3 linked regions of the Homo sapiens genome follow. The protein of the gene in region 2 interacts with the protein of the main gene of each other region in a pairwise test. Each region holds a gene or a part of one and is shown on either strand. Other genes may lie near its edges. The genes, in order: POLR3GL, M1AP and CRX.

Region 1 (3,750 bases), on a different chromosome or scaffold from region 2:
TGGATTTCCAAGATTTTAAGGGTGTTAATTTCTTGCTTTATTTATTACATGTATAGCAAATTCTACACATCAGCGTGCCCCAGGCCTCAGTGCCTGGATTTCTTATTTTCTCTGTCCACATCCACTCCTTTAGGGGTCTCACCTAGTCTCATGGCTTGAAGTATTGTTTGTTTGCTGATGCCTCCACTGGAATGAAAGCTCCATTTAAACCCCGTGGGTGCAGCATGTTTTTGTCTGTTTTGCACACTGCTATATCCATAGAATCTAGAACAGTGCCTGGCACACCTAGTAAGCACTCAGTAAATATTTGTTGAGTGAAATGATTCTATTATTGTTATTTTTATTCCCATTTTACAGATGAGGAAACAGGTTTAGAGACAATAAATAAATTACCAGAGTTTTGTAGCTAGGAAATTGAACTGGGATTCAAAACCATATTCTTAACCTCTACATGTACTGCCTTCCTTAAATTTGATGTAATTGTTAGTGTTTTTCTGTATGTTTAGTTGAAACCTGCCTCTCAGTAACTTCCACCACAATATATATGTATGAATAATTGGGAATGAGCATAGTGTATATGAGTGTTGTTTGGAGTAAAACAGAGTACAGGGGTAAACTCTCTGGAAAGGTTGATGTTAAGGAGGAGCAGATTGTGACTAGATTATGGGAGACCTTAAGTATCCTCAAGAATTTTAACTCCATCACAATCTTTAATAGCAGAGACTCCCTATAGATTCCTAAGATGAATGGGGCAGATGGATGGTTTATTTCCCAACCTGTATTAAATAAAATTTTGTCTTCTTTTTCCCCTGCATTCTTAGAGGATCACTCATTTAATGTGTAGAAATGGTGTGGAATTTGTCTAACCTCAAACTCATGGCCATTTATTGACTCTTCATTGCTTTGCAGTCACAGCAGCTCCTATCTCCACTGCCAGAACTATATCTGTCAAGTGGAAAGATACTTAACCAGCTGGTTAGAATGTTCTCTCGCTTAAAAGGGGCTGAAGACACGGTGACAAATTCTTTTTTTTTTTTTTTTGAGACAGAGTCTCGCTCTGTTGCCCAGGCTGGAGTGCAGTGGCACAATCTTGGCTCACTGCAACCTCTGCCTCCTGATTTCAAGTTATTCTCCTGCCTCGGCCTCCTGAGTAGCTGGGATTACAGGCGTGCACCACCACGCCTGGCTAATTTTTTGTATTTTTAGTAGAGACGGGGTTTCACTTTGTTGGTCAGGCTGGTCTTGAACTCCTGACCTCGTGATCCGCCCACCTCAGCCTCCTAAAGTGCTGGGATTACAAGCATGAGCCACCACGCCCAGCCAACAAATTCTTATTATTTCTCTAGTCTCCATGAGACATCTTCTCTCCCTTAATATGCTCTTTTCAAACAGATTGCAATTTGATATCTTAACCAACAGCCATTGTTTCCTCAATTTTTTTTATGGCAGTTGGGCTTGAAACTTCCCAGATTCCTCAGATATACATTTTTCTACCCTCTCCTAGCTACAGATTATTAATCTCATTTAGTATTCTGTTACGACATTTAAATTTTATTTATCTATTTATTGAGACACGGTCTCACTCTGTTGCCCAGACTGGTGCACAGTGGTGTGATCATAGCTCACTGCAGCCTCGACTGCCTGGGCCCAAGTGATCCTTCTGCCCTGGCCTCCCAAAGTGCTGAAATTACCTCCATGAACCACCACAACTGGCCCATTAAAAAAAAATTTTTTTGAGACACAGTCTCGCTCTTTTGCCAGTCTGGAGTGCAGTGGCGCCATCTCGGCTCACTGCAACCTCCACCTCCCGGGTTCAAGCGATTCTCCTGCCTCAGCTTCCTGAGTAGCTGGGACTACAGGCGCACACCACCATGCCCAGCTAATTTTTGTATTTTAGTAGAGACGGGGTTTTGCCATGTTGACCAGGATGTTCTCGATCCCTTGACCTTGTGATCCACCTGCCTCGGCCTCCCAAAGTGTTGGGATTACAGGCATGAGCCACCATGCCCAGCCAAAAATTTTTAAATTAATATTTTAATGTTGTTATAGTATTCTATTCAGTATAGAAAAAAACAAAGCATACATAACCTGGCTGGGCATGGTGGCTCATGCCTGTAATCCCAGCACTTTGGGAGGCTGAGGCAGGCAGATCACGAGGTCAGGAGTTTGAGACCAGCCTGGCCAACATGGGAAAACCCCCTCTCTACTAAAAATACAAAAATTAGCTAAGCATGGTGGTGGGTGCCTGTAATCCCAGCCACTCAGGAGGCTGAGGCAGGAGAATTGCTTGAACCCGTAAGGTGGAGGCTGCGGTGAGCCGAGATTGCACCACTGCACCACTCCAGCCTGGGTGACAGAGCAAGACTCTGTCTCAAAAAAAAAAAAAAAAAGATACACAACTCTCCCCACCAGAAAAAATTCAAAAAACCCTCATCCTTCAAATTAACCGTTGTTAATTTTTGGTACATATCCTTCTATAACAGATTTTTAATTCATATGTGTGTATGTATTTCTGACAGAAGATTACCTTCTACATATTATTTTTAAATATTTTTTTCACCAACTAATCTCTTGGGAATTTTGAATTGCTACTTGATTTTTGTTTTAGCTTTTTGTTTTGAGACAAGGTCTCTGTCACCCAGGGTGAGTGCAGTGACATGATCATGGCTCACTGAATCCTCTTATCTCCCGGGCTGAAGCGATCCTTCCACCTCAGTCTCCCACGTAGCTGGGACTACTGGCATGTGCCACCATGCCTGGCTAATTTTTTTATTTTTTGTAGAGATGGAATCTCACTATGTTGCCCCGGCTGGTCTCAAACTCCTGGACTTAAGTAGTCATCCCACCCCAGCCTCCCAGAGTGCTGGGATTACAGGTGTGAACCACCACGCCCAGCCTCGAGTTTTTTTTGTTTTTTGTTTTTGTTTTAATTAATAGATTATATATTTTAGAACAATTTAAGACTTACGGAAAAATTTAGCAGATAGTGCCAAGAGTTCCCATTTGTCCCAGTGCACAGTTTCCCCTATTAACATTGTAGATTGGCCGGCCGCGGTGACTCACGCCTGTAATCCCAGCACTTTGGGAGGCTGAGGCGGGTGGATCACGAGGTCAGGAGTTCGAGACCAACCTGGCCAAGATGGTGAAACCCCGTCTCTACTAAAAATACAAAAACAAATTAGCCGGGCACGGTGGCGGGCTCCTGTAATCCCAACTACTCGGGAGGCTGAGGCAGGAGAATCGCTTGAACCCGGGAGGCGGAGGTTGCAGTGAGCCGAGATCGCGCCATTGCACTCCAGCCGGGCAACAAGAGCGAAACTCCATCTCAAAAAAAAAAAAAAAAAAAAAAAAAAAAATGCCGGGCGCAGTGGCTCATGCCTGTAATCTAGCACTTTGGGAGGCCGAGGCGGATGGATCACCTGGTCGGGAGGTGGAGACCAGCCTGACCAACATGGAGAAACCCCCTCTGTACTAAAAAAAGTATAAAATTAGCCAGGCGTGGTGGCGCATGCCTGTAATCCCAGGTACTCAGCAGGCTGAGGCAGGAGAATCGCTTGAACCTGGGAGGCGGAAGTTGCAGTGAGCCGAGATCGCGCCATTGCACTCCAGCCGGGCAACAAGAGCGAAACTCCATCTCAAAAAAAAAAAAAAAAAAAAAATTGATTCGTATATTTGTTACAATTAATGAATGAATACTGATACATTATTATTAACTAAGGTTGATACTTGATTGACATTTCTTTGGTTTTT
Region 2 (3,750 bases):
GGCAGATTTCTTTTTTCTTTCTTTTTTTTTTTTTGAGACAGAGTTTTTGCTCTTGTTGCCCAGGCTGGAATGCAGTGGTGCAATCTTGGCTCACCGCAACCTCTGCCTCCCGGGTTCAAGTGTTTCTCCTGCCTCAGCCTTCCGAGTAGCTGGGATTACAGGCATGCACCACCATGCCCGGCTAATTTTGGATTTTTAGTAGAGATGGGGTTTCTCCATGTTGGTCAGGCTGGTCTCGAACTCCTGACCTCAGGTGATCCACCCGCCTCGGCCTCCCAAAGTGCTGGGATTACAGGCGTGAACCACGGAGCCCAGTCGTGGCAGTAGATTTCTAAGGCAGCAGCTGATGCCCTTGGTCAGTTACACTCCTTGTAGTTTAAAGTCTGCAAGGTGCTTTCTCATGACCATTATAGTTTATCACCCTCAGAAAACAATTCTTATGTCATAGTCCCCATTTCTGGTACAGTTCTTTGCATATTTTTAATAAATGCTATAGAGGGTACGGAAAGAAATTAATAGTAGGTAGGAGCAATGGGTGGTATGGTTTGGAGTGAGGCTAGTGCTCAAGTTTGAATGCGTCCCCCAAAGTTCATTTGCTGGAAACTTAGTACCCAATGGAATAGTGTTCAGAGGTGGGGCCTAACAAGAGGTGATTAGGCCATAAGGGCTCTGCCCCCATAAATGAATTAATGTCATTATCTTGGAAATGAGTTAGTTATTGAGAGAGTGGGTTTGTTGTAAAAGTGAGTTCAGCTCCCTATTGCTGTCTTGCTCTTTTGTACCCCTTGCCCTTCTGCCTTCTGCCATGGGATGACACAGAAAAAATGCCCTCACTAGATGTGGGATTCTCAACCTTGGAATTCCTACCCTCCAGAATTTAAGAATACATTTCCTTTATTTACAAGTTAGTTGTTCTGTGGTATTCTGGTATAGCAACACAAAGGGGAGTAAGACAGGTAATGCTGGGGTTGAGCCTAGTAAGGTAGGTGGGGTCAGTTATAATGGACCCTCTAACCGAAAAGGAAACATAAGCCATTTTTAAGACAAAGAATGATATGATCAAAATATTTTTACAAGGACAATTCTAACATCAGTGGAAACGATAATCTGGAGATTAGAGACAGAAAGGCTAATTTGGACTATATGGGGGGAAAGAGCTGTTGAGAAGCTACCCTTTAAACTGAAACACAGGAACTCTATTGAATATCAGATTATAGTGTTTAAAAAAGGACATAGGTTAAATAGTTCTGTTCTTACCTGAGGAACAGTTGATAGGAGCAAAATGGTTTAGTGGGACTAGAATACAAGCAGGCAACTCTTTTCCTGTTGAAACATCTAACCTATCCTGTGCCACTCATTGAAATATTGCCCCACCCCACCTCCAACCTGCATCTAGACAATGAACTGAGAAAATAACAATAATAATAATAAAGAAAACAAGGAAAACTGCTTGTACATTTCTAGCTTGGAACTAGCATTATCTTTCCCTCTCCTGTGGACTAATTCAGAGAATTCCTTTTTAACCAGAGTTGAAGACCCAGACCAACCAACTGTTAAGGACCAGGACGCTCCTACCCCATCTGGAGTTCGTCAAAGGGACTATGGGAATCAACCTCAAGTAAGCGAGAATGAGTATGAAGAGAGCGACAGACCCTCTTGGAATACAGGAGTTTGAAAAGACTTAAAAGAACTTTGTGAAGGCAGCTATAACTTCCATGAGGGCAGTGACCATTGTCTGTACATCCACTGTACTCCAATCCTAGCACAATGCGTGGCACATAACGTGCCCACCACAGATGTTTAGTGAACAAAATAGCGACTGGCTGAAGGAAATGATGTGGAAGGGAAAAGTTAAAACCAAGAAAACGGTCGGTGGGGGAGCTACTGGCATGTTTCATGGGAAGGGGTAGAAAAAGAAAAATGTCAGGTTTAGCACAGCATTTCCAACAAATAGACAAAATTCTACCTAAGGGACAAAGAAGGACTGTTCTCAGGGTATCTAGGGACTTGGAGACCGTTTTCCTGAAGCGCCACCTGAAGCGCACCCTGAGGCAGCCAGGCCCCGCCTTGCCCGCAGTGAGCCTCCCGCCCAGCCGCGCCGGCCTGAGGGGGGCGCCTCCGAACGCGCGGGCGCACGCTGAGAGCCGGGAGGACCAGGTGAGGGGGCCTCCGTCTTCCGAAGACAGGTACGGTTCTCCACGCCTCGGGGAGGGAGGGCAGCCCGAGAGCAGCCGGCACCACTTCGCAGGCTGGGCTGGGCGTGGGCCGAGCTCGGGCCAGTCCTCAGGCAGGTGTTGGTTGCGCTGGCCGTGGCGGGTGCCGGCGCAAGACTGACGCCGAGAGAGGCTCCGAAATCGCTGTCGGAGTCATCCCTCCGCATACTGTTCTGGGCGGCCAGGCCTGCGCGGAGTCTGGGCCCGGAGCTTCCTCCGCGGGGCCCCCAGGCCCGAGGGCCGGGCTGCTGATCCGCCAGGCACGGTAGGCGCCATGCCGAGGGACCACGGAGGCTTCAGGGAGCCACGAGAATTTTTTTTCTTCTGGTTTTGCTTTGTTTTTGAGACGGAGTTTCACCCTTGTTGCCCAAGCTGGAGTGCAATGGCGTGATCTCGGCTCACTGCAACCTCCGCCTCCCGGGTTCAAGTGATTCTCCGCCTCAGCTTCTCGAGTAAGCTGGAATTACAGGCTCCCGCCACCACGCCTGGCTAATTTTTTTATATTTTTAGTAGAGACATGGTTTCCCTATGTTGGCCAGGCTGCTCTCGAACTCCTGACCTCGTGATCCGCCCGCCTCGGCCTCCTAAAGTGCTGCGATTACAGGCGTGAGCCACCGTGCCCGGCCACGAGAATGTTTTCATTTCGTTTAAAGTGAACCCATGAAGTCAAAGAAAGTGTTTTGATTTTTTTCTCACATCAGGAGGGGGAAATGAGATTTTTAGGGCCTACAAAATCCATTAACTTCTTTTAATCTTTTTTTAATGGAGGAAGGGGTCCACGAAGACGAAAGTGCCTTAGGGCCCACGAAATCTTTAATAGGGCCCTGCCAGAGGGAGAACCATTGAATCGTTTATCACGCGACAAAGTGAATGAGGGCTTGTAAAGGGGCCCTAACCTAGAATGCTCAGCACGGAACAGAACATCCGCAGAGGCAGACACAGCGAGAAGCCGATCTGTGAGAGGTGGATCTCCCGGGGTGCGGGCAGGGGAGGGCCTAGTGTGAGGATGGAGAGTTGGGCAGAAGGCACAAGCAGAACTTTAGGGCCAGGGTAAAGATATTGGATTCTGTTTCCAGTGGTGTAATTGGAAGTCCTTGGAGGGTTTTTAGTTTGGGCATAACTTGGTGGTTTGGAGTGGTTCAAGGCCCAGTTCCAGTTTTAACCAGTTTGCAGGGAGAATTCATTAAGCGAGTGTTCTTGGCAAAAGTGGAGAGTATAGGGTCAGAATAAGGTCAGAGCCTGTTTAGTACTATGCCCAGACACATCAGATGCATGAATTGATGATGTTTGAGGATGTAAGGAAGAGAGCTGCCTCTTACCTCATTTAAAATACAGTCTTCCAATTGCACATTAGTGTGGGATTGAAAAATGACTGCAAGCTGAAACCATTCAAAGAGATCTTAAACACCAATGGGAAAAATTACAGTTGTTCTATAACCTTGAAAAATTGTCAAAACACTAAAACTTTCTTACTAACTGTATAGGGAAATGTAAAACAGTAAAACTATTTCATACACTAACTTAAAACATTAGAAAC
Region 3 (3,750 bases), on a different chromosome or scaffold from region 2:
TCCCACACTGGACTCTTGAGCCACTCCTGGGTTATTTTTGTTGTTGTTATTATTGAGACGGAGTTTCGCTCTTGTGACCCAGGCTAGAGCACAGTGGCACAATCTCTGCTCTCTTCAACCTCCGCCTCCCGGGTTCCAGCAATTCTCCTGCCTCAGCCTCCCGAGTAGCTGGGATTACAGGCGCGTGCCACCATGCCCGGCTAATTTTTGTATTATTAGTAGAGACAGGGTTTCACCATGTTGGCCAGGCTGGTCTCGAACTCCTGACCTCAGGTGATCCACCCGCCTCGGCCTCCCAAAGTGCTGGGATTACAGGCGTGAGCCACCGCACCCGGCCCACTCCTGGGCTTAATGTCCCAGAACCCAGCATGACTCAGGCCTATGAGAGATGAACACGTTTTATGTTGAATAAAAACCTCTTTGTGGGCTCTAGAGATCAGGGTGTACCCCTCAGGGGGTCTAGGCTGTGTGCACCTCTTCTGGTCTAGTGCTGGAAACGTCATCTGATACCTCCCGGCCTCTCTTCACATCTCGCCTTTCTCCTGACCCTGGCTGCTGCTGACGGTGTGTACCAACTCGTAAGCATATATTGTGCCCTATCTCTTCCCAACTCTTAGTTCAGTGACCTCCGGTTGCTAGCTTGAAGTCAGCCGTGGTGGGAGTATTTACACCACGGAAACTGACAAACACTCCACAACCAACCTTTTCCTCTTCCTTGGAGAGCCCATTGTTAGACCTCTGCCAGCACACCACTGTCTTCCTGCCCTACTTTTTTTTTTACACCTTGCCTTGTGAACTCCACCAATGAAGGGCTCTTGGAACCCGCCTCCCCACCCAAAAATGAAAGGAGAACTCGGACTGAGAAGGCAGGGACCCAGCACCCAACTTCTGAGCATCAAATGACCTCAATCCGTCTTCAGGTTCTCACAAGTGCTTGCCAGTGTCACCATAAGTAAGATTCTATTTCAAGAAATAATGGTGCCACCCCAGGAAAATGTCCTCAAGCCAAGCTCTATTTTCCAATCCCACCATCAAAACTGAAAACCAAAAAAAAAAAAAAAAAAATCTAAAAAAGGGAATGTATGTTTGAAATGTAGGGCTGCCTCCTCCAAATCTATTTCCCCCTCTTCCTATCTCTTGTTTATTTACAGATGGGAGTCTGTCTAGCTGCTGCTTCTCTGTGAAATAGCCACAACTATAGGTGGTACGTCCCAAGCAGCTACCCCAGTTCCACCAGTGTCTCACCTTTAGAAAATCCTAAAACAAAAGAAAAAAGGAGTAGAGATGGAACAGGCAAGGTGCCTTTCATTTCCCTACCAAATACACACATTCCCAATGTGCTAATGAGCGAATGAGTGATAAAATGTCTTTAAAAAGAAACTAAGAAGAAAAAGTACATATATGTATAGCTACATATATGAATGTAGATCTTTGTCTCTCAAACGGTCCCCTAAACCTACCATGTAAGCCTGACATTTGTGAAGTCTGTGAAATTCCCAGATAATTTATTTTTAATGTAACCACATCATTGGCCTAAGGTTTCCCGACGGGGCTTCTTAAAGTCTGTCTTTGGAATTTCTAGAAAGGTCCCTAACCATATGCTAAAGAAGTGTCCACGTGTAGGGCCAGGCACAATGGCTCATGCCTGTAATCCCAGCACTTTGGGAGGCCGAGGCAGGCGGATCACTTGAGGTCAGGGGTTCCAGACCAGCCTGGCCAACATGGTAAAACCCTGTCTCTACTAATAATAGAAAAATTAGCCGGGCATGATGGAGCACACCTGTAATCCCAGCTAATTGGGAGATTGAGGCAGGAGCAACGCTTCAACCCGGGAGGTGGAGGTTGCAGTCAGTGAGCTGAGATCACACCACTGCACTCCAGCCTAAGCAAAAGAGTGAGACTCCGTCTCAATTAAAAAAAAAAAAAAAAAAAAGGGCCGGGCGCGGTGGCTCACGCCTGTAATCCTAGCACTTTGGGAGGCCGAGGCGGGCGGATCACGAGGTCAGGAGATCGAGACCATCCTGGCTAACACGGTGAAACCCCGTCTCTACTAAAAATACAAAAAAAATTAGCCGGGCCTGGTGGTGGGCATCTGTAGTCCCAGCTACTCGGGAGGCTGAGGCAGGAGAATGGCGTGAACCCGGGAGGTAGAGCTTGCAGTGAGCTGAGATCGTGCCACTGCACTCCAGCCTGGGCGACAGAGCTAGACTGTGTCTGCAAAACAAAAACAAAACAAAAAAAAAAATTCTGTCCACGTGGAAAGTTAAGTTATCAAGCCCCCCTACCTGCTTGTTCAAGGGCACGGTGATTCTGACCTAAACATGACCCCAAATCAACTGCAAGTTTGGTTTGACTTCTTCTTGGAGCAAGTTCTCAGCACCACTTTCTGAAGCCTGGAGCTCGTGGTGTACTTCAGCGGTCACAATCGTGCCAGACGGTGTTAGGGTTGAGAGAATCACTAGGACCTGTGAGCTGTCCCAGGAGAGGGAGGAGCCTCTCCCTGTGGAGGAAAGGGGTGGTCTCTGTAAGCTGAACACCGAGCTGTCAGAAGGACAGCTGGTTCGGGTTGCTTTCTCAGGAATGCCATCCCGGGATCTAAACTGCAGGGAAGCAGATTCAGAAGAGAAAGGGTCCCGAGGCCCGATGGAGAGAGATGGAGACTGCGTCCTCTACAAGATCTGAAACTTCCAGGCACTCTGATCCTTGTAGTCCAGAGGGTCCATGGGATTGTAGGTGAATTTCCAGGTGCCCGTGGGGTCCTTGAATTCCAAGCTATCCACGGGGCTGTAGGCGCCATAGCTCTGGCCTGATAGGGAGGTGGGGGACTGGGCCAGGGAAGGTCCCACGGAGGGGCCAGAGAGGGGGCTAAGAGCCGGGCCCCCTAGCTGGGGCACCATGGGAGAAAGGTAGGGGTCTAGGCCGCTGAAATAGGAGCTCGGAGACCCATAGGCGGAGGGGGAAGAGCAGAAAGCGGAGGCCGGGGCGTAGGTCATGGCATAGGGGGCGGAGGTCAGAGACGGCCCTGAGGCCACCAGCCCAGCCCGCTGCGCCTCAGGCAAAGGGGACTCTGAGGCTGGGCTCCAGATGGACACAGTGGCCACTGCCGTGGTTGGGGAGCCTGAGGGGCCGGGCAGAGGGGGACTGTAGGAATCTGAGATGCCCAGAGGGTCTGGACACACATCTGTGGAGGGTCTTGGGGACGTGCCCGCCTTCCTCTTGGCAGGCCGGGCCTTGGCCTGGCCCCCTGGGGGCTGCTGCTGCTGTTTCTGCTGCTGTCGCTGCTGCCTGCATTTAGCCCTCCGGTTCTTGAACCAAACCTGGGGGATAAGAGCGGAGATGGGGGTGGGTAAGTGGGGAAGAGGCCCAGGAGAGCCGCAGGGTGCCCGGGGATGAGGACACTTATTGGTGAGAGGTGCTGGGTTCACATCTGTCTACTTTGCATCCAGCTGTGGGGCGTCTATTCACCCATCCATCCATCTATCCATCCAATCATACCTGCATGTGTGCATGAACACATGCATACATCATACCCATGTGCATTCATCCCATCCGTCTAATGCAAACATGCACACGTACAATTATACATGCATACACCATACGCACATACATCATGCCTGCATTTACCCATCGATATGATCATACATACATCATACACATATTCATCCACCCATCTAATACAAACATGCACACGTACAGTTATACATATATACACCATACGCACATATATCATGCATACATTTACCCATCTAT

The links.
Region 1: the proteins of M1AP (region 2) and POLR3GL interact in binary tests that used the Homo sapiens proteins (3 or more experiments, as listed by UniProt).
Region 3: the proteins of M1AP (region 2) and CRX interact in binary tests that used the Homo sapiens proteins (3 or more experiments, as listed by UniProt).

The regions. Positions count from the first base shown.
Region 1 is NC_000001.11:145,967,549-145,971,298, forward strand, and holds part of POLR3GL (DNA-directed RNA polymerase III subunit RPC7-like), read left to right. Parts: intron 1-3,750. UniProt on the Homo sapiens protein: DNA-dependent RNA polymerase catalyzes the transcription of DNA into RNA using the four ribonucleoside triphosphates as substrates. Specific peripheric component of RNA polymerase III which synthesizes small RNAs, such as 5S rRNA and tRNAs.
Region 2 is NC_000002.12:74,646,701-74,650,450, reverse strand, and holds the start of M1AP (meiosis 1 arrest protein), read left to right. Parts: upstream 1-2,120; 5' UTR 2,121-2,186; exon of another isoform or gene 2,187-3,114; coding exon of another isoform or gene 3,115-3,176; intron 3,177-3,750. UniProt on the Homo sapiens protein: Required for meiosis I progression during spermatogenesis.
Region 3 is NC_000019.10:47,838,887-47,842,636, reverse strand, and holds part of CRX (cone-rod homeobox protein), read right to left. Parts: intron 3,318-3,750; coding exon 2,670-3,317; 3' UTR 1-2,669. UniProt on the Homo sapiens protein: Transcription factor that binds and transactivates the sequence 5'-TAATC[CA]-3' which is found upstream of several photoreceptor-specific genes, including the opsin genes.